Linked DNA regions of Homo sapiens: region 2 is linked to region 1. Evidence: fine-mapped expression QTL. Tissue or cell type: thyroid. Region 1 holds a variant in brackets; the other region holds the start of a gene. All regions are shown on one strand. Distances are from middle to middle.

Evidence for each region. PIP is the estimated chance that this variant, and not a neighbour inherited with it, causes the effect.
Region 2: it holds the start of GOLGA7B, and the variant in region 1 is fine-mapped to the expression of GOLGA7B in thyroid (GTEx, PIP above 0.99).

Annotation. Positions count from the first base shown.
Region 1 is chr10:97,814,366-97,825,120 of GRCh38, reverse strand. LOC107984260 (a long non-coding RNA gene) reads right to left here and starts at 3,224. Exons shown (of 3, transcript XR_001747563.2): 1 at 2,433-3,224. The variant TTTACAG/G (reference allele first, on the strand shown) is at 5,967.
Region 2 is chr10:97,844,927-97,855,681 of GRCh38, reverse strand. GOLGA7B (golgin A7 family member B) reads right to left here and starts at 5,839. Exons shown (of 5, transcript NM_001010917.3): 1 at 5,367-5,839. The coding sequence starts at 5,378. It overlaps GOLGA7B-DT (GOLGA7B divergent transcript), which reads left to right and starts at 5,884. Exons shown (of 3, transcript NR_108035.1): 1 at 5,884-6,016.

The DNA of each region.
Region 1 (10,755 bases):
TTTTGTTTTTTGTTTCTTTTTTCTCCAGATGGACTCTGGCTCTGTCACGCAGGCTGGAATGCAGTGGCACAATCTCGGCTCACTGCAACCTCCGCCTCTTGGGTTCAAGCAATTCTCGTTCCTCAGCCACCCATGTAGCTGGGATTACGAGTGTGCACCACCACACCTGCTAATTTTTGTATTTTTAGTAGAGATGGGGTTTTGCCATGTTGGCCAGGCTGGTCTTGAACTCCTGGCCTCAAGCAATCCTCCAGCCTCGGCCTCCCAAAGTGTTGGGATTACAGGCGTGAGCCACCGCACCCAGCCAGAGACTACTGTTGAACTGGACTGACCGCAGGAGCAAAGCAGCTTGTTGAAGGCCCTGTAGCTCTGTTTCCCTTGAAAGATATCAAAACCCTTTCAGCATCTTAATCCCCAAAGGCATGACACCTGACATCAGTCTCTTGAGTGGCCTGCAGGGAAGCCATTGTCCAAGCTGTGTGCAGCCACCAAATCCACTGACTAAGCTCTGAATCCGCAGTCTCCTGAGGTTGCCGTTTGTTCTCTGTCTATGGACTGCTACTACATGTGCAGCTGCACTGTGCTTGAAACCTCAACAGCGTATCTCAGGGGTGGGTAAGGGAGGCTGGGATAAATGGAGCCCCAGCCTCTGAAGGCCTGACGTGGAGGTTGTGCAGCTCATCCCTGGGGAGTCCTATCTAGTGGGGGCTCGGGGGGCGACTCGGGGATCTGTACCATAAGCAAACTCCTCCAGGGATTCTGATGTGCTGCCATGTTGGGGACCACCAGCCTAATCCAGCCCTTCCCTCATGGAGTCCCCTCCTCCACACCCTCACAGAAGACCACTCATCGGGGGACTGGGAGCTCATCACCTCACAGGTGGCAGTGCCCCAGCAGTGAGTACACAGGCTGTGCCACGCTGAAATCTGCGTCCAGAATCCTCGTCTGCCCTCTGTGGCTGACCAGTCAAATGTCTCTTCTTCCTCAGGAACAAAATCAGACCCTATTGCAGCCCTGTGTCCAACCGCTGGCCGCCCAGATACTGTTCCTGCCCGGGGGGCTCCTGGTGTCCCCTTAGGCCTGACAAGGGAGAGACTCTCCGTGTCCAGCACGCAGGCTCCATTTGCGGGTAACTGCTCCTCCTCCTGCCCCACCCACACACGCCCATCTGTGCCAGACACCGCCGAGCACCAGGACACAGTGTCCTCCCCAGCCTGAGACCAGAGCAGGCCTGATCAGGAACACGCAGGACCCTGCCTTCTCTGCCCAGTGGCCTCTTGCTCCTGGTGCCATCGTGTCTACTTGAGATATTTCCAAATAGAGAATATAGAAACAATGAGCATTCCTCCCAAGAAACCGGGCTTGAAATCAGAACACCTGGGTCCTCCCAGGGCCCCCATCACTTCCAGCTATGGGACCTTGAGCGAGTCCCAGGGCCCATCTGGTGAATGGGGCTGCTGAGGGAAATTCAGACAAGCATCAGAGCCCACCGTGCCCTTCCCTCTCGGTGTCAGGTGTTTTCTGCCTTTGCCTGAGCCGTGGCCACACTCCCTTGCTAATCCTTCAGACGACTGACACGTATACAGCTGTTGCCCTGGCCTGAGACCCTGATGTGGCCTGACCGGCATGGGCCCCTACCCAATGCACTAACTAGCAGCAAATGAGCCTTATTAAAAAATATTTGAGGCCGGGCATGGTGGCTCATGCCTGTAATCCCAGCACTTTGGGAGGCCGAGGTGGGTACATCACTTGAGGTCAGGAATTCGAGACCTGCATGGCCAACGTGGCAAAGCCCTATTTTTACTAAAACAAAAAAAAAATACAAAAATTAGCCAGACGTGGTGGCGTGCGACTGTAATGCCAGCTACTTGAGAGGCTGAGGCAGGAGAATCACTTGAACCCGGGAGGCAGAGGTGGCAGTGAGCTGAGATCGTGCCACTGCACTCCAGCCTGGGCAACAGAGCAAGACTCTGTCTCAAGAAAAAAAGAAAAGAAAAAAGGCCAGGTGCAGTGGCTCTCACCTATTTATAATCCCAGCACTTTGGGAGGCTGAGGAGGGAGAATTTCTTGAAGCCAGGAGTTTGAGACCAGCCTAGGCAACACAGGGAGACCACATCTCTACAAAAACTTTTAAAATTAGACGGCTGTAATGGTGTGCGCCTGTAGTCCCAGCTACTCAGGGGGCTGGGATGAAAGGATTGCTTGAGCCTGGGAGGTTGAGGCTGCAGTGAGCCAAGATCGCACCACTGCACTGCAGCCTTGGCAACAGAGCAAGACTATCTCTAAATAAAAAAAATTTTTTTTTAATAATTGCATAGAGCTGCCTAGCACAGTGCAGGGACATGAGGGTTCAGTAAATATTTGTGGTATCTAATTTAGGAACACCAACCTGTACCCACCAAGGAGAATAAAAAATATACCTTAGTACTCACCTAGTTCAACCTTTTCATTTTACCAATGAGGGTTCCCAGAGAAGGGAAGTGACTCATCCCAGGTTTCCCAGCAACTTTAGTCCATAGTGGCTCAGTTTGCCCAGCCAGAAATCCCCAATGCTCCCATCGAAGGTTGTGGCGCTGACAACATCACAGCTGAGAGGAGGACTCCATGGTGCCCAGAACCCCCGCAGCGCCATTCACCAGAGGTGGACAACACTCCCTCCCGGCATCCCCCTGGGCCTGGCTTCTGACCAGAACCCTGCCCTGGACATCTCAAAAGCCCTCAGGACCTCGGTGCTGCCACCTGCTCACAGAGTGTGGCGGGTACGGGGGTGGACAGCCCACGTCCCTCTGCCAGGTTATTTATAAAGTGTTTTCAGATGAGTCAGGCACGGAGCTGCCCAGCACCACCAGGGACTACCCCCTAGAAATGCTAGAATGATCCTGAGCTCTGGAACCCCACCCCACCCCTTCATAGCCTGCTTCTCATGGAAAGCTAGAGGCAGGAAGGTGAGGCCAGGGCTCTGGGGCTGTTGTGATGCCCCCCGTGAGCCCGGGCAGGCCAGGCTTGGGAGACAGATGGGGAGGCCCCAGGAAGGAGAAGAAGGGCCTCGGACAGGCCCCCTCCGGGCCACAGACCACATGCCCCTTCCCCTTCCCCCTCCCAAACAAGAATGACGGGACAAGCCCAAGAAGACAACCCCCACCCTGTGCCCCAGGCGCTGGCTGCTCGCACCTCCATTCCTGTGTGTACTGCTCTCCGCCTCCGCCAGGAGCCCAGCTATTTCTATCTCTATGGAAAGGGAGCCCAAGCCTCCAAGCCTCCTGCCCCCCTTTCCTGCTCCTGGCAGTGCTCTAATTAACTCCTCAGCTGGATGCCGCCTGCCATGGGTACTCTGGCCAGGGCTGCCATGAATAACTGCACCTGCGCTCACACCCAGCTTCCCACAGAGGCTGGGCCCAGTGCCCCTGCAGAGAGTGTGACCACTGGGAGCCTGGTCCTGGGGGCCTGGACTCCCCCGGCTATGCACTCTCCTTTGGGAGCCTGAGCTGAGGGCATATGGGGGTCTTTGGGACCCACCCTCTCCTCTGCAGCCTCCACCACAACCCTGCAGGGGCTACTTGCTGGTTCAGCAATCCTGCTGTGTGCCTGGCATGGGGCTCAGACCTGAGCAGGGAAGGAGTCGGGAGGGCAAGGAGATGAATAAGCCTGTCCTCCCTCAAGGGAGGCAAACACATAAACAACTCATTATGCAATGAGAAGGAATGAAGTTAGTGCTAAATTAAGGTACAAGCTGGGCACCAAGACTGCAGGCCCTCAATTCTTCCCCACTTTTTTTTCTTATTATAAAAGCAATTCATACTCATTTTACAAAGAATTTATATATGCAGATAACAAAAAGAAAATTATAATACATTCTTTATCCATCCACTCAAGGACAACTTTGTCCATACCTGTGGCCCAGACTTCCAAACTTTTTTTAACAGAGCAAGGACAGGTCACAGATCTGAGGGTCTCTCCTCCAGGGACCACCCGCCTGGCTCTGGGACAGTCTTTCCAACTTGAAATTCACAAGAAATGCATAGAAAGATTTCAAAGCAAATAATATGGATAGTATGACAAGTTCATGTAAAAAGAAAAATCCCAAAACTCTATCAATGCCTGGAAAATGTCTGGAAAGATACTTACTAAAGGGTCAACATTTATCAGCTAGGGGGAAAGTGATGGAGGAGCAGATAGACTTTTTTCTGCTAGAAATGTCTTTGAATTGTTACAATAAGCATGGATTTATATAAACTTTATGATTTTTTAAAATGAAAACTTTTTTAAAAAAATTGCTCAAGGCATAATTTCCAAATTTTCTATGGCGTTGTCTTATCTTTGCACTTAGAATAATATAATATGAAAACTAAAAGGAGGTACAGCCACTGTGGAGAGCAGTTTGGCAGTTTCTGCAAAAGGTAAACAGAATTTCCGTATGACCCACCAACTCCACGCATTTGGATATGCTCGAAATGACTGAAAACAGGGACTCCCCTTGTTCACAAATGTTCATCACAGCACTATCCACAGTAACCGAAAGGTAGAAACAACTCAATGTCCATCAACGGCTGAATGGATAAACAAATCGTGTTATGTACATGCAATAGAATATTACTCAGCTATTAAAAAGAAATAAAGTGCTGACACTTGCTATAACATGGATGAAACTTAAAACATTACGCCAAGGGAAGGAAGCCAGACATAAAAGGCCACAGAGTCTATGATTCCTTTGAAATGAAATGAACACAATAGGTAAATCCATAAAGGGAGAAAGCAGATGAGTGGTTACCAGAGGCTGGGGGGAGGGAGAGAATGAGGAGTGATTACTTAATGGGCACAGGGTGTTTTTCTGGAGTGACGAAAAATTTTGAAACTAGTGGTTTTGAAACTGGTGGTTGTACAACATTGGGAATATACTAAATGCCACTGAATTGTATAATTTTTATTTATTTATTTATTTATTTATTGAGACAGGGTCTCACTCTGTTGCCCAGACCAGAGTGCAGTGGGGTGATCTCGGCTCACTGCAACCTCTGCCTCCCAGGCTCAAGCCATCCTCCCATCTCAGCCTCCCACCCCCAGCTCCCACACCACCACACCCAGCTAATTCTTCTACTTTTTGTAGAGACAGGGTTTCACCACGTTGCCCAGGCTAGTTTCAAACTCCTAGACTCAAGTGATCCTCCCACCTTGGCCTCCCAAAGTGCTGGGATTAGAGGTGTGGACCACCACACCCAGACTGAATTGTACACTTTAACACGGTTCCTTGTATGTTATGTGAATTTTATCTAAAAAAAAAAAAAAAAACAAACAAACAAACAAAAAAAACCACAATGAAACATTAAAAATAATAAAAACAAAAACAAAAGCAAAAAGCTTAGTCTCACTCAACTTTCATGCCCCCCAACCCCTGACCACCTGGCCTTCGAGGGTCTTGAAGGAAAAATCTTCAACCTGCCCACTGGCAGGGCCAAGCCACTTGGCTCCCAGAAGGCCTTGGAGAGGCAGGGGCAGTCCAAGGGAGAAAAGTACCCCCAAGTAAGAGAGGGGAGAGGAGCGCAGAGGCAGGAGCTGGGCCAGGCAGACAGAAGAGGGAAAGCAGCCATCCTGCACCAGGCACCACACTCCCGAGGAACCCTCGGATATCCCTGAGAGGTCAGAACTGCTATCCCATTCTTCAGATGAGAAAACCAAGGTTCAGTGTGGCTTGGAGGCAGGGCTGGGACCTCCTGACTCCAAGGAGGAGAGGCAGGGGAACCTGGCATAGCCCCAGGTTGTTTTCTATTTGTTCCATCTATTTTTTTCCCCTTTTCTGCCTTCTTTTGGACTATTTTTGATTATTCCATTTTATCTTCTTTATTGGCTTAGCAGCTGTAACTCTGCTATTTTAGCAGTTGCTTTAGTGTTTATAGTACACATCTTGACCTTTTCACAATTTACCTTCAAGTGATGTTGTGCCACTTCACATCGAGTATAAGAACCTTACA[TTTACAG/G]AATTTACTTCCATTTCTCCCCACCTGGCCCGAGTTCCCCCTCTCTGGGTTGTGGCCGAAAACACTCTCCAGGTAGTAAGCAGAGACAACCATAGAGCTCTGTGGGACCCCTGAATCTTGTAGCCTAATGTCTAGTGTCTTGAAAACCATTATTTCATATGTTCTGTCTGTTTTTTAAAAATTGTTTCAGGCAGGAGTATAAATCCAGTCCCTGCTACCCTGTCTTGGCCAGAAGCAGAAGCCCCCAACATGCATAGGAGGAAACCAGGACTCAGAGGCTAATCCCCTCACCCAAGGTGAGGGAGCCCATAAGTGGACAGGCAGGAATCCAACCAGCCCTGGTGCTCTCTTCCCTGGCCCACTGCTCCTGCATGAACCAACTGAGAATGCAGAAACCACTCTCAGTAGGAGAAAGTGAACTTTTGTCACCACAGCAAAAAGCTGCTCACAGCATTGTTACTGCTTTGGAAGCCAGTGGGACAATTCTTTTGCATAAAGTTACCCATTAAAGAGCAACTTTCAGCATCTTCCAAGCCTCACCTTAAATGCTCTCTCTTTGCATCTACAGAAGCCTCTGTGGCATATTCCCCACGGTGTTTGCTGTCTAGCAGGATGCATAGGTCTGCTGAGAATGTAGGATCAGCCCCCTATAAAAGTACTCTGTAACCTATAATATGCTGTAACAGATGGAATTGTCTCCCCACTTACCCTCCCATGAGTATTTTCTGGCTCAATCTAATCACCTAGGTGGTGGAATTGCGGTAACTCTGAGTGTGTGTATGTGTGCATACGTGTGTGTGTGTGTGTGTGTGTGTGTGTGTGTGTGTGTGAGAGAATTTGGAGGCAAGGAGGAGGCCCGTTTTTATCACACTAGTCAACTCACTTTACGTTCAGGGATCTATTTGTCTTTAAGCAGAGGGAGAGGTATTTTTCCTTAAAATCACTTGAGGCAGCTGGCTGAGGCCAGATTCCGACAGAATCTGATGGGGGACGGGGCCTAAAATAGCCTTCAGCTCCTCCCCACCCTCTATCTTGCAGGCAGAGAGGAGTCGGGGCCCAGTTCTTTCCCAAGCCCTCTCCTCCACCAGCTGACCCCAGAAATACTTTATTTAGAAAATCAATCTGAAAGCAACAGGAAGGACTTTCATTCCTACCAGCACCTTGTCACACATCAATTTCATTTAAGGCTCTACAATTCCACAGCTGTGAGGCGCAGGCAAAGTCCTTAGCCTGGCCAAGACTCAAGCTCCTCATCTGTAAACTCCCAGGACTGACCGTTAAGTGGCAAACATGATGCATGTGGCACAGATTGGGAGCTTGAATCTTAGGCTTCTTTCCGTCCTCCTCATAGTCCATTCACCTTGTTGAATGTTGACAACAGCATTCAGCTATTGGTGTTACCAGCAAAAGTGTTACCCAGGCCGGGCACGGTGGCTCACTCCTGTTATCCCAGCATTTTGGGGGGTCAAGGCGGGCAGATCACCTGAGCTCAGGAGTTCGAGACCAGCCTGGCCAACATGGTGAAAACCCGTCTCTACTAAAAATACAAAAATTAGCCAGGCGTGGTGGTGAGCACCTGTAATCCCAGCTACTCGAGAGGCTGAGGCAGGAGAAACACTTGAACCTGGGAGACGGAGGTTGCAGTGAGCCAAGACTATGCCACTGTACAATCGGAATGAGTGAGACACCATCTCAAAGAAAAAAAAAAACAGCATTACCCTTAGAAGTCTGTGTCCTGCTTGTCGGTCTGTTGCTTCCAACTAAAACAGATGGAAGGAAAACCCATAAACAACACCCTCCCTGCTCCATCCAGATCAGAGGTTTTCAAAGTTTGCTGCCCATTAGAATCCCCTGGGGAGTTTTAAAAATCCCAACACCAGCTGCACCCCAGATTCATTAAATCCAAATCTCTGGGGATGGGGTCCTGGCATCAGGAAATGTTAAAGCTTCCCGGGGGCTTCCTGTGTGCAGCTGGGGTTGAGAAGCCATGGTCTGGTGTGAGAGGTCCTGAATGCTCTGCCTGCCCCACCCTCTCCTTCACCTGCAATCCCAGCACATCCCTCGGGCTCCCTGAGTGCAGTAACCAGGATGCAGGACCAGACAAGTTTGGGAGAGTGGGACATTTAGGGAGCCCGCATTCTCAAGTTCTGGCAGGAGTGGGTGGGGAGTGGGCCCTTCACCACCCTGAGAATGAGGGCCTCCCATATTTTGCTCCCCAGGAACCTCATTATTAAGGAAATGCTCTCTTGCTGGGCCACTTCAAGAACCTGAGCATAAGCGCCTCCTTACGTACGCCCTGGCCACCACGAGGGTGCCTCCCTACCCCTGCCCCTCCTTACCTACAAAGGGCCATGATTCCAGCCCCCTGGCCAGAGCCCAGCAACTGTCAGGCCACCTGGCTGAGAGGCAAGCACACCCATCAAAGGGAAGAGGAGACAAGGTGTCCCTTACCAGCCAGCCAGCCACCATCCCATTTCTCACAGCTGGCCCACTGCCTGGGTGGCAGTTCAAAGATTCTGGAAAATGAAAAGACTTGGCAAGGCCAAGCATGACCTTTCCTCCAGGTGCAGGAGCCAGAAGGCTGGAGAAGATGATTCTCATGCCCTCAGCTTGGTGGGGGCCCCAGCTGTGCCTGGAAGCAGGGTGTCCAAAACAAGACTCCATCAGGGGACTAGAAGGAGGAGTTGGGTCCCCAGTCTTGCCCTAGAAAACACAGTTTGTGTCAGACCCATGGCCTGCTAAGCCCCGGCCTCCTTTTCTCATACTTGAGTGAGCAGGGCATCACCTGGGGACCTTCCCTCCAGGCTCTGCTGCAGTGGGGCTGCATTTTGAACCAACACCCCCAGGTGATCCTAATCCAGGTAGTCCATACTTTGAGAACCACTACCCTGGGCCTTGGTGGGATAATATCTCAGCATCTTGCTCTCCTGCCCATTCCCCCTCCCCCACACTATCATCCTCTCCAGAGAGCATCTGCCGAGAAGAGCATCACCCTCAAGAGGAAGAGCCTGAGTAGGTTTGGACAGGCACCCTCCAACCGGTGACCAAGCCTCACTGCCTCTCCTGTGAGGCCTTCACCAACTCTTCCCATCCATTCAAATTAGCAGAGATATCTACATTTCTGTAGTAGCAGAAATGTACATACCTAGGCCAGCAGGTATGAGGCCAGAGGGATGGTAGGTACTGTAGCAAACTGGAGAAAGCGTGCCGTGCCCACTCCTACCTGCTGCTGTGTAGCAGGCTGGGGTTGCCAGATCTCCTGATTTGTCAGGAGAAGTCAGGAATCTAGTTTTTATAGGCAATTTCCAGGTTTTTAAACTATGGGAGCCAAAGCCAGCACATCCAAGGTCCCAATCTGGCCTGTGGGCCACCCGTTAGCAGCCTGTCTAGGAAGTGGGCCCGCGGGATGAGAGGCCCTGCCTGTGGGCATCCTCACACAGTTGGCGTTAGCACATTGCCTGCCTGCATCCCCGGGGTCCCAGGAAATACCCCTGACATGAACAAGTGAGTGAACACATGGTGTTGGCAGGCAGGCGAAAGGGATATTTTTGTAGGGAAGGGCGACTTCCCACCATACCACACCTAAGGTCAGCCTTGTCAGCAGGGGTGGGGTCTGTCCTCCGTCATTCTCAGTAGAGGGCCAAGCTAATGCCTAATTCACCACCCCACACTTAACTGCCACTTCTAACATTGTGGGTGTTCTGTGAGCACCCCCCATTGTGCAGACCTCTCTTGGGTCTGTAGCTTTATCCACTCCTTCTCTAAAGCCCCCCAGCTTGGCCTGACTTCAGGCCACTTCTCAGAAACCTTTGCCCAGGGCACCCCATCCCCAGCCCATTCCCAGCTCCTCCAAGCCCTGCAATGCAAGAGCCAGCAAAGCCACAGAGCCGCCCCTGGGAGCAAAGGCCTGGTCTCGGTGCCCGCAGGAATATCCCAGGACACACCCTGCCAAGGGAGGTACATCTGAGGCTTCTGCCACCTCAGGAGATGACAGTAGACAGTCACCAGTGATGTGCCAGGAGGGAGGAGCCCAGCCCATCAGAAGAAGGGCTGAGAGGCTGCTTAAAACTGATCAGAAAAAGACGTGAAAGTCCTAAGGGAACAATGTAAAGCACATGGTATATAATACCCGCCCCATGTGAAGTTCAATGGCAGCTGCTGCATGTGAGCACAAGCTGGGTTGATGGGGGAAGCGGGTGGGGGCATGGGGAACCCTCTGGAGTGATGGAAACCATCCATATCCTGATTAGAGCGGTGCTTGCACTGATGTACAAATATAGAAAAAATACATCAACTGTACAGCACATGTAAAGATTGGTGGACTTGGCCGGACACAGTGGCTCATGTCTGTAATCCCAGCACTTTGGGAGGCTGAGGTGGGTGGATCATTTGAGGTCAGGAGTTTGAGACCAGCCTGGCCAACACGGTGAAACCCCATCTCTACTAAAAATACAGAAATTAGCCAGGCATGGTGGCGCATGCCTGTAATCCCTGCTACTCGGGAGGCTGAGGCAGGAGAATTTCTTGAACCTGGGAGGCGGAGGTTGCAGTGAGCTAAGATTGCACCACTGCACTTCAGCCTAGGTGACAGAGAGAGACTCCATCTGAAAAAAAAAAAAAGAATTTGTAGACTTTACTGTATGTAAATTTTACCTCAATAATAAAAGAAAAGAAAATAGCAATGGACAAAAGGAAGAGAAAAGCTCCCCACATATACCTACAAACCCAAGAAGCTGGAGACCTCCTTACCTGCTCCTTGGGGAAGTTTAAAGAGAGGCACAAA
Region 2 (10,755 bases), 31 kb before region 1:
GCTATGGCCTTCCTCTGCCCCTCTAAAACCAACTTATGAAAGTCAGTCAATCTTGAGGATGGACTCCCCTACCCCTAGAAGGCTCATTCTAGCAGTTTTGTGGGAAGTGGACAAGACTGGGGTGAGGGGCCAGTTGGAGGGATGATTCTCTTTCTAATAGTCCATGGAAAAAACTAAAGAGGTGGTGAGAAAAGCAGTGGTGAGAATGGAAAGAAAGGGAAGAAACCATTCTGATATGGACTCAGCTTCCTGTCCTCTGACCCATACAAAACCTGCTGTTTTGGTTACTATAGCCTTGTAGTATAATTTGACGTCAGGCAATGTGATGCCTCTGGATTTGTTCTTTGCATAGGATTGCTTTGGCTATTCAGGTTCTCTTTTGGTTCCATGTGAACTTTAGCATTGTTTTTTCTTTTTTTAGCATTGTTTTTTCCAATACTGTGAAAAACGATGTTGCTAATTTGATAGGGATTGTGTTAAATCTGTGCCTGAATGCACACATGTGTACACACATATTTGTGTGCTGTCCTGAAGGCGTGTGTCTCTAGCGACTGGCTAGCTACTGACCCAAGCCATTTCTTCTTCCTCCTAGGCATACAGCTATATTAATTCCCAGCCTCCCTTGCAGTTAGGTGTGTCCCTATGACTGAGTAGAATGTGAGAGGAAGTGACGAATGCCATGTGTAGGCTTGATTCATAAAGATGTACCATTTCTCCCTGCTCTTTCCCCTTTCATGGAGGCTGGTGGAGCCCTGTGTTGAAGATAGTGACACCACAAGTTGGGAAGAGCCTTGGTCCCTGAATCACTGAATCACTGCCTTGAATCACCGCCTGGAATACCTGTTGATCAGGAACACTTACCTGGAACTTCACTGAGCAGGATACAAACTTCTATTGTATTAAGCTATTAATACATTAAGATTTGGGGGTGCTACCTTACATAATAAATTCCCATTTCCTCTTGGCTTTGATCCACAGGTTCTCAAGTAGCCAGAGTAGGATAAGTCAACACCCTTTTCAGCACCAACAATATCCTGAGCCTTAGACTACTATCCAGGCTCTGGGTGACCAGAGATCTGCTTCTCTCCCTGGAGAGTGTTTGTGGAGGAGCAACTCTGAGGAGTTGCTAAAGGATGATATCAGACACATTTTATATGGCAGAGCCTTAGTCTCCCAGACCTACATAGAGTACATATATTACAGACTCATCTGAAGTTGGTGAAGAGCCGGATTTAAGGCAAGGCAGGGTCTCCTGGTTTTCTCCATTCATGGTGGCTTGAGTGTGAAGTGCCAGGAAGCCCTAGTGGAAAGATGGCCCACTGACCTGGGGGCAGGAGACCTGACCCTGGGCCACATGGCCCTGGGAAAGTCTTCCCTTCTCTGCACCTCCATTTCTTCAACTGGAAACTAAGAAACTGGAACTACATCATTGCTCAAGCCCCTTTCATCTCTGACATTCTAGAGGCTTTATCAGGGATTATGAATGCAAATGTTTACAGGGGCTGAGCAATAAGTGGGCCAGGTGGGGCCTGGGGCTAATTAGAAAACTGGTGCCCCATCTCAAGGAGACAGATGACTATTGCCACGTGGGAATGTATACCCAGGTTGCCAGCACTTCTGGTGTCTCAAAAGAAGCCAGAAATCTAGATCTTTTTAACATCAAATATTCTGATTTTTGAATATTTCCAATACATTTTTAAAATGTATAAGCACTCAACAGACTAAGTAAGGCACACCCATGGACCAGACTCATTTCTAGAGCTGCTAGTTTAAGACCTCTAAATAAAGAATCCCATGGCTGGGGCCCCTTGGGCAAGAGCTAAGCCAGGCTCCAGGCCACTGGCCAGCTACTAAGTTTTCAGAAAGCTGGTGGGGTTTTCAGCAGAGATCCGTGATGCTCTGAAATCCTACCAGAGGATATCAAAATATGTGCACAACTCTCTCTGAAGCTGCAGTTTCTGTGTTTCCCCTGGGTGTCTCCCAGGGGGTTCTTAACTGACCCAGAGACCTGAGCCTCTCTCCACTTCTCACCTTCCTCAACCCTGCCCCTCTCTCCCATTGCCACCCCTGGCTCACTGGCAGCAGAGTGAAGACAGGGCCGAGAAGCATTTCATAAGGAAGAAAATCAGTGGTGAGACCCATGGGTACCAATTTTCAAACTGCAGTATGAGAAGGAGGGGGAGTCTGCCTGGAGAGTGGGTACCACAGGTCACACATTTGGCTCCTGTTCACCTGACAGTCAACTAGCTGGGGTGCAGAGGAACAAGCTCTAGAGTGCAAATGAGCTCCTGGTCCAGTCTGCCCAAGTCCAACAGGAGTGCCCCCCTGGCGCCATCTTCATCCTCATTAAAAACCATCTCATTCCATAGGATGCATGTGAGGCATCGAGAATTAGGAGGTTCCGCTGATGCCAGCACTCTGCTTCCTGGCTGGGGTGTGAAGGAGGAGTGAGGATCATGAGTCACAGACAGCCAGGTCAGGCCTAAGGATAAAACACCAGCCACAAGACCTCCCTTCTTCTCAGCCTGTACCAGTGCTCAAGCCTGACCCAGTTGTCTACTCATCATTAATTCCATGCCTCAAAGATCAAACCTCCAAACACCCTGCTTGAATAACGCTACTTGGATGCATTTAAAAATCTCTTAGAGACCAAACCCCACCACTTGGAGAAGCCCCTCCCAGCCAGGCACTTCCCAGTTGTCCTTGGCCATCTGGACTATTTCCCAGGGCAGACCCTGCTCCCAGTGACACACATTCACAGAGGTTTGCTGCTCAGAAAATGGGCTCATTGCAGCTCTCCAAATGAGGTCAGTGTATCACTCAGGAGGCTCCATCCCTCCTCTGAGTTCCTTACAGACACCTCTCCCCTAATGCTAACTCCTAAACAGAAATTAGGGAACAGAAAAGACCCAGTTTCCACCCATGAATTTCTTCCCTCTCCCTCACCCCTCCCTCTCTGTCCCTCTCCCCACCCCCTTCCTCTCCCTCTCTCCTTCTCTCAATACAGCTTCTCCTAGAGCTGAGGAGTTCCTATTGAGAATCCTAACAGAATAATCATGGGAACTTAAAGCGATGTTTTCCCTCTCCCAACAAGTTTATCCTGGTAATCTCAACTCAATTCTAACAGTAAAAACAGCCTTGGGAGAATGACTCACCCCACAACCCAGAATACGTGCAGGTCCTGTGCCCTGGCAGAGCTAAGGCTTCCTGCCTCAGTTCTGCCATCAGAGTCCACCCAAGGCCAAATTGTGAAGTGAGGAATGTTTGTCCTCAGCTCCCCATCACTCCGGGACTTTCCTCTGTCCCTCTGCCCTCAAACCAACCCAGCCAGGCCAAGCAGGGGGCCTGAGTCCCCACACTCCAGCCCTTCATGACTTCCTTTGCATCCCTCTCTCCACCAAAGCTTCACATCAAGACCTGGAGGGCCCTCCTCTCTATCAGGTGACACAATAGGCTAATTGGATGCAGGAAAAAAAAGCACTGGCCAAAGAGGCAGAAGACTCAAGTTCTTATCCCATCCCTGCCACCTTTTAGCCATATTTTCCTGAATAAGTCTCAGCACTTCAGTTCCATCATCTGTAAAATGGGATAATGATGCCTTCTTTGGCTCCTTCACAGGGACCAGGCAAGTTTCTGAACCTTAGTTGTCTCATCTGTTAATTGGGCATAATAACACCATCCTTACCCACTTCATAGGGCTGCTCTGAGGCTTGAAAGAGATCACTTATGCGATAGTGCTTTGTACACAGGAAAGCGCAATATTTTCAGAGGCGTTATGAGCAGAGCCCCTCCCAGGGGAGAGTCACACATGTCTCATAGCAGCCTCCTGGAAACGCTGTCTTGACATAGAGATAGAAGCCTGCTGGTTGGAATCTGTGGGCCATGGCAGACATCCTGGGACAGATGGGCCTGTTGGAATCTGTCAGATCACATCGCAGAGGCAGCTGCCTTCTCTGCCCACGCTGCTGGCCCAGCCATGCCCATGTAGCTGAAGTTCCCCTTTTCTGTCCAACACAGCAGCCTCTGCTGCAGTCTGGCAGCCCTATCTGGAAGGTAACCAACTCCTTGGTTTCTCCCTTTGTTCTTCCTGCTGTCCTCCATGTCTTTGGTGCTTTGTGAGTACTCTGCATTCCTCTACTCTAGAAACCAAGCTCCCAGGGTCTGCCCAGGGCTTGCCCTCACACCAAGTCCTGAGGGGCAACTCTCCGCCTAGCTAACCTTGTGCCTTGTCAGAATGCCAAGCAATGCCAAGCAACAGCACCTTGTTCTGTGGTGGAAACTTGAGTGGAATAACAACAGCCACACTTGGTATTAATGTCACACTGCTCACCAGGATGCCCAGAAGCACTGCATTGAATCATTCACAGGCCTCTGCTCTCCCCCAGTGTATGCCAGCTGGATTGGAAATGGGGAGACACCACAAAGGAAGTCAACATCAGAACTGGGGAGACCCTGATGTCCTGAGTTTCGCTCCAAAAATTCAAAGGCAAAAACTTTCCGCTCTGCTGCTGACATGCTGTGTGGAGTAGCAAATTAGTCCTTTCGTTTTCCACACATCACCTTTATCATGTATAAAGTGGGAACATAAAGAGCCCAATCTCCCTCCTGAAATGAGGGGGGAAAGGGCAATCCCTAGGGGTAGAGGGGGGAATCCTCGACCTCAAGCATTATACCAAGATTCTGCCCTTAGCTAACAGGCCCCGTGGTTCAGCCTTCAAGTGCTTGAAGGTGACACACCTATCAGTGCACCTTGAAGAAGGCAGAAACTCCCATCAGATGGAGGGGAAATCTGGACACCCTGGGACAAAAAAAAAAAAAAAACTCGAATGGGGTAAAAAAGCAAGAAGGGTGATATGCAAAAGTGGAGACCAACCATTTGGGTTCTCAGCCTGAGGATGTCTTTGTCCCCTCCCTCCCGCAAAGGAAATGCGGATGTAGAGGTAAGTCTGTCATCCCTTAGCCAAGCTTTTGGGTTCAGAAGCTGACTGCATAGCAACAGCGGACAGCCGCCTTCCCTCCCCTCACACACGCACACACACGCGTCTCCAACCCTCTAGGAAAGCGGTTTCAGGACTTGTGAAGTCCAGGGAAGGGGAAACCCCAGCCTGGGGCCCTGAAGCAACCCTGGCGCTAATGCCAACAAGTGTCGCGGACAGCTTGGGGGCTCAGGTGGGGCGAGGGGAAGATTGACACGCAAGGGGGAGATGAGCCCTCACTAAGCCCCTACCTCCTCCCTCCAGACCTGACCTGGGGAATCACCCCATCCCACCCCCAACTCCCGCCTCCCACTCCTGCCCAGCCCACCCCTAGGGCATTTGGTCCCGCGGCAATCGGGCACTGCCTGCGGGTGGGGCGCTCGCCCCTACCTCGGTGGCCATGATCCGGGGGCGCTCGGAGGCTGTCGCGGGGCCGGGCGAGGGGGGTCTCCGCGGTGCTGACCCCGGGAGCAGGTGGGCGGCGGCGGTGGCGGCGAGCTGGGGCCCGGGGCGCTGTCCGCAGTGCTGATGCGGGCGCCGCGGGCCCGGGCTCAGGTGGGCCGGGGGCGGGCGGGCGGCTGGGTCCAGGCAAGGGGCGCGGCGCTGTCCGCTGTGCTGAGGCAGGCGCCGGGCCCGGGAGGCGAGGCCGCGCCCGAGGCTCCTCACGGCCCGATCGCCCGCTGCCGCGGCTCCTGCAGGCAACGGCCGGGTTTAGCTTTGGCGGCGGCGGCGGCGGGGATGGGGGCGGCCGGGGGAGGAGGGGCCAGGAGCCGCCGCTGGCCGGGAGGGGGAAGCCGCGGCCCCCAGACTCCGGCGCCGCCGGAGAGGAGCCCCGCCCGGGCCACAGGCTCGGCTACCGCCCCGCGCGAGGCCCCGCCTCCCCTTCCTGCCCTCCCCCTCGTGAGAGCCCCGGAGCTCTGCGCTCGCTTCCGTGGCCCCCGGGACATCCAGCCTGAAGGACAGTGGGGCAGGAATTTTTCCGGGGCAAGACGCTTCAGCCTGCAAGGCTGACCGCTCCCGAGCCGCTCGCAGGCCCGCAGGTGAGGCCTCTCTACCTTTCCAGCCACCCCCAGTGCCCCGGCTCTACCCCTCCCTCGCCCCGCCCCCAGCTTCCTCTTTAGAATAATTTCTTTTCTTTCTCTCCCTTTTCCTCTCTGTGTGCCCCCCCCCCATATACACACAGTCAGGCTTGCACGGACGGCCCCTCTTTTCCCCTCTCCTTTGCACTTCCTGGAACCCCACTAGCTAGACAAAGATCCTGCCGACCGCAGAGAATCATTTCCTTTCTTTAAATACGTGCCCACATTTCGTTCTCAGCCATAGCCTGGGGTCCCTTCTTTCAGGCAGCTCCAGAATTGAAGCCAGTCTCTCCTTGCTGCTCTTCCTGGACCTGGTCCCCACCCTTTACTCTTCCCTCTCTCCTCTGCAACCCGAGTTTACATACACGCACCACCACTACCACCACCACTCAAAAACCACAAGCAGATGGTGCCAAACCGGTATGCTCACTCTCCAAGGATGGCAGGTCTGGCTCTGGTGCCACCTTCGCACTTTTGACATCATAAATTCCAACTAAATGATCTATTTGTTTAATAAAAAGGAGACCAGGTGCAGTGGCTCACACCTGTAATCCCAACACTTTGGGAGGCTGAGGTGGGAGGATTGCTTGAGCCCAGGAGTTCAAGACCAGCCTGGGCAAGACCCTGTCTGCACAAAAAATGAAAACATTAGCCGGGCGTTGTGATGTGTGCCTGTGGTCCCAGCTACTCAGAAGGCTAAGGCAGGAGAATCACTTGAATCCAAGAGTTCAAGGCTGCAGCTAGCCATGATTGTGCCACTGTACTCCAGCCTGGGCAATAGAGCAAGAGCCTGTCTCTTAAAAAAATAAAAATAAGGCCGGAAGCAGTGGCTCATACCTGTAATCCCAGCACTTTGGGAGGCCGAGACGGGTGGATCACCTGAGGGCAGAAGTTCAAGACCAGCCTGGCCAACATGCTGAAACCCCATCTCCACCAAAAATACAAAAAAAAATTAGCCAGGCATGGTGGCACCCGCCTGTAGTCCCAGGTACTCAGGAGGCTGAAGCAGGAGAATTGCTTGAACCCGGGAGGCAAAGGTTACAGTGAACTGAGATCACACCATTGCACTCCAGCCTGGGCGACAAGAGCGAAACTCTGTCTCAAAAAATAAATAAATAAATAAATAAATAAAATAGACATAAAAAAAAGGAAACACCAACACAAGTGCCTTTTTACATACCCATAATACCCCTTGGTCTCTTTGAGGGGTGGTGGGGTGTGCTCCTCTGCAGCTCACTGCTGCCTGAGAGTCTGAAGCCCACACACAGGGAGAACCTGGCGGCCAAGAGACCTGGCCCAGGCTTTTCCAGCTGTATAACCTCGAGCAACTGTCTTGTTTTCTGAGCTTATGGTTCTCTTTCTGTAAAATGTGAGTGTTGGATTTCACTAGACTGTTTCTAGGACCTTTTGTTTTTTCTCCAACCTTTTATTTTGACATTTTTAAACATACCAAAATGTTGAAAGAATAGTACAATAAACTATGCCATCTACCTAGCTCCAACAATTGCTTTTTGCCACATTTGCTTTATTGATAGATATGAAAACAGAGCTATATTTGCCTAGATTATCAGAAGGTGACAGATATCGTGGCCGGGCGCGGTGGCTCACGCCTGTAATCCCAGTACTTTGGGAGGCCGAGGTGGGCGGATCATGAGGTCAGGAGATTGAGACCATCCTGGCTAATACGGTGAAACCCCGTCTCCACTAAAAAATACAGAAAAATTAGCCGGGCGTGGTGGTGGGCACCTGGGGAGCTACTCCCCAGCTACTGGGGAGGCTGAGGCAGGAGAATGGCATGAACCCAGGAGGCAGAGCTTGCAGTGAGCCGAGATTGCGCCACTGCACTCCAGCCTGGGTGACAGAGCGAGACTCCGTCTCAAAAATAATAATAATAATAATAATAATAAGGTGACAGACATCGTGAGGTTTTATCTGTAAGTACTTCAATGAGATTTTATCTGTAAGTACTTCAATTCACCATGCATCTCCCAAGAAGAAAAGCGTTATCCCAACTAGGCACAACACCATTCTCATGCTTTATTTTATTTTATTTTATTGAGATAGGGTCTTGCTCTATCACCCAGGCTGGAATGCAGTGGCACCATCTCAGCTCACTACAACCTCTGCCTCCTGGGTTCAAGTGATTTTCAGCCTCCCAAGTAGCTGGGATTACAGGCACGCACCACCATACCCAGCTAATTTTTGTATTTTAAGTAGAGACAGGGTTTCACCATGTTGGCCAGGCTGGTCTCAAACTCCTGAGCTCAGGTGATCCGCCCACCTCAGTCTCCCAAAATGCCAGGATTACAGGCATGAGCCACCGCACCCAGCCAATTATCATGCTTTTAAAATGCCCATATTATCTAATATTCTAGAACAGTTTGTCACCCCTAAAACACATTAATAGCGATGACCCCTCAAAAATTTTCCCAGAACTTTTCATTTTTAGTAGCTAACATTTAGTGAGCACTTACCATGTGCCAGCCCATATGCTACACACTTTACATGTATGATCTTACGTAATCCTCACAATTACTCTTTGAGTTGTGTTCTTGTGATCTTTTTATTATTCCCACTTTATAAATGAGGGAACTGAGTAAGTTGCCCAAGGTCATAGGGTTTGTGGGGAATGGAGACAGGATTCAGACATGGGCAGTCAAGCTCCAGAGCCTGTGTGGTTGATCCTCCTAACTGTATTGCCTCCCTCCAGCATCTGGTAGACCATAGACTAGCAGAGCAATGACCACATCTCCAGCTGCCTATTTTGCAGATGAAAACGCTGAGTCCCAGAGTGTAAGTGACATGCTAAAGAAGTTAAAGGCGGGTGTCTCATTCTACCTTATAGTTTGGCATAGGATTTGGCATAAAGGACCAAACAGAATATCTATGAATCCTGCAGTGGTCACTGGTAATAAAAGAACACATAATCTGATGATCTCCATGTAAATTTCACAGTTCCTCCCACTTGATTTTTATCACATCAATTAGACAACCTTCTGGAAACCATTCTCTTCACCTGATGACTAGATATCTGGATGAGGCCATTCAACAAATCCATTCATCAACATCTATTTGTTGAACACCTACTGTGTATCAGGCACTCTTCTAGGAAATTGGGATACAGTCGTGACTAAAAATGCAAAGCCTCTGTCCTTATTGAACTTATATAGTAATGGGGGTAACAATCCATGACATAAGCAAATATGTGTAAAATATGTCAAGTTTTGATCACTGCTAGGAAGAAAAGTGTGATCACTGCTAGGAAGAAGATATGGTAAGGAGATAGTGATAGAGAGGGCTTATTTTCGAAAGAATAGTCAGGGAATACTTTTTTTGATAAGGTGAAATTTGGGTAGAGCCCTGAAGGAAGAGAGAGAACTAGACATATAGATACCTGGAGGAAGAGTGACAAGGCAGAGAGGACAGAATCCAAGGGCCCTGACGCAGGACTGGGCTTGGTATGTTCAAAGAATAGCAGGAGGCTGGGCGCAGTGGCTCACACCTATATCCCAGCACTTTGGGAGTCCAAGGCAGGTGGATCACTTGAGGACAGGAGTTCAAGAACAGACTGGCCAACATGGCAAAAGCCCATCTCTACTAAAAATACAAAAATTAGCCAGGTATGGTGGTGGCTGCCTGTAATCCCAGCTACTTGGGAGGGTGAAGCTGGAAAATCACTTGAACCTGGTAGGCGGAGGTTGCAGTGAGCCGAGATTACACCACTGCACTCCATCCTGGGTGACAGTGTGAGACTCCGTCCCCAAAAATAATAATAATAAAAACAAAGAATAGCTGGAAGACCAGTGTAGCTAGACCTGAGGTGAACAAGGGGAAGAGAGTTGGGAGTTGAGCTCAGAGAGGTAGCAGGAATCAGGTCTTCCAGGGTTTTGTAGGCCCTGATAAAGACTTCAGATTCTACTCATAAAGTAAGATGGCAAGCCTAAGAAGGTTTAGCGTAGGGGTGTGACATCATCTAATTGCAGTTTTTGAAAGATTCCACTGGATGTCAGAGGGGAGGCAAGGCTAGAAGCTGCAAAACCAATTAGGAGACTGTTAGAGCAGCCCAGGCTTAGAAGATGTGGTGGTGGCTTAGAATTTGGTAGTAGCAGTAGAGGTGGGAAAAAGTGGCTAGATTCTAGATATAATTTGAAAGTAATGCTGAGAGGATCTTCTGATGGATTGGATGTGTGGTATAAAGAAGGCAGGCCGGGCATGGTGGCTCATGTCTGTAATCCCAGCACTTCGGGAGGCCAAGGCAGGTGGATCACTTGAGATGAGATCAGGTGTTCAAGACCAGCCTGACCAACATGGCAAAACCCTGACTCTACTAAAAATACAAAAATTAGCCAGGCATGGTGGCACACACCTGTAGACCCAGCTACTCAGGAGACTGAGGGAGGAGAATCACTTGAACCCAGGACGTGGAGGTTGCAGTGAGCCGAGATTGTGCCACTACACTCCAGCCTGGACAGAGAAAGACTCTGTCTCAAAATAAATAAATAAATAAGAGATCGTCAAAGATGAGTCTAAGTCTTGAGATCTGAGCCATCAGAAGAAAGGAGTGGCCATCTACTGAGAGGGGAAGACTAGGGACTGAGCAGGCCTGAAGGGATAGAGAACACAGCATTTTGGTTGTGTTTTGTTCACTTAGGTTTGAAGTTTGATGTGCATGTTATAAGCAAATTATAAGGGAGGATGAG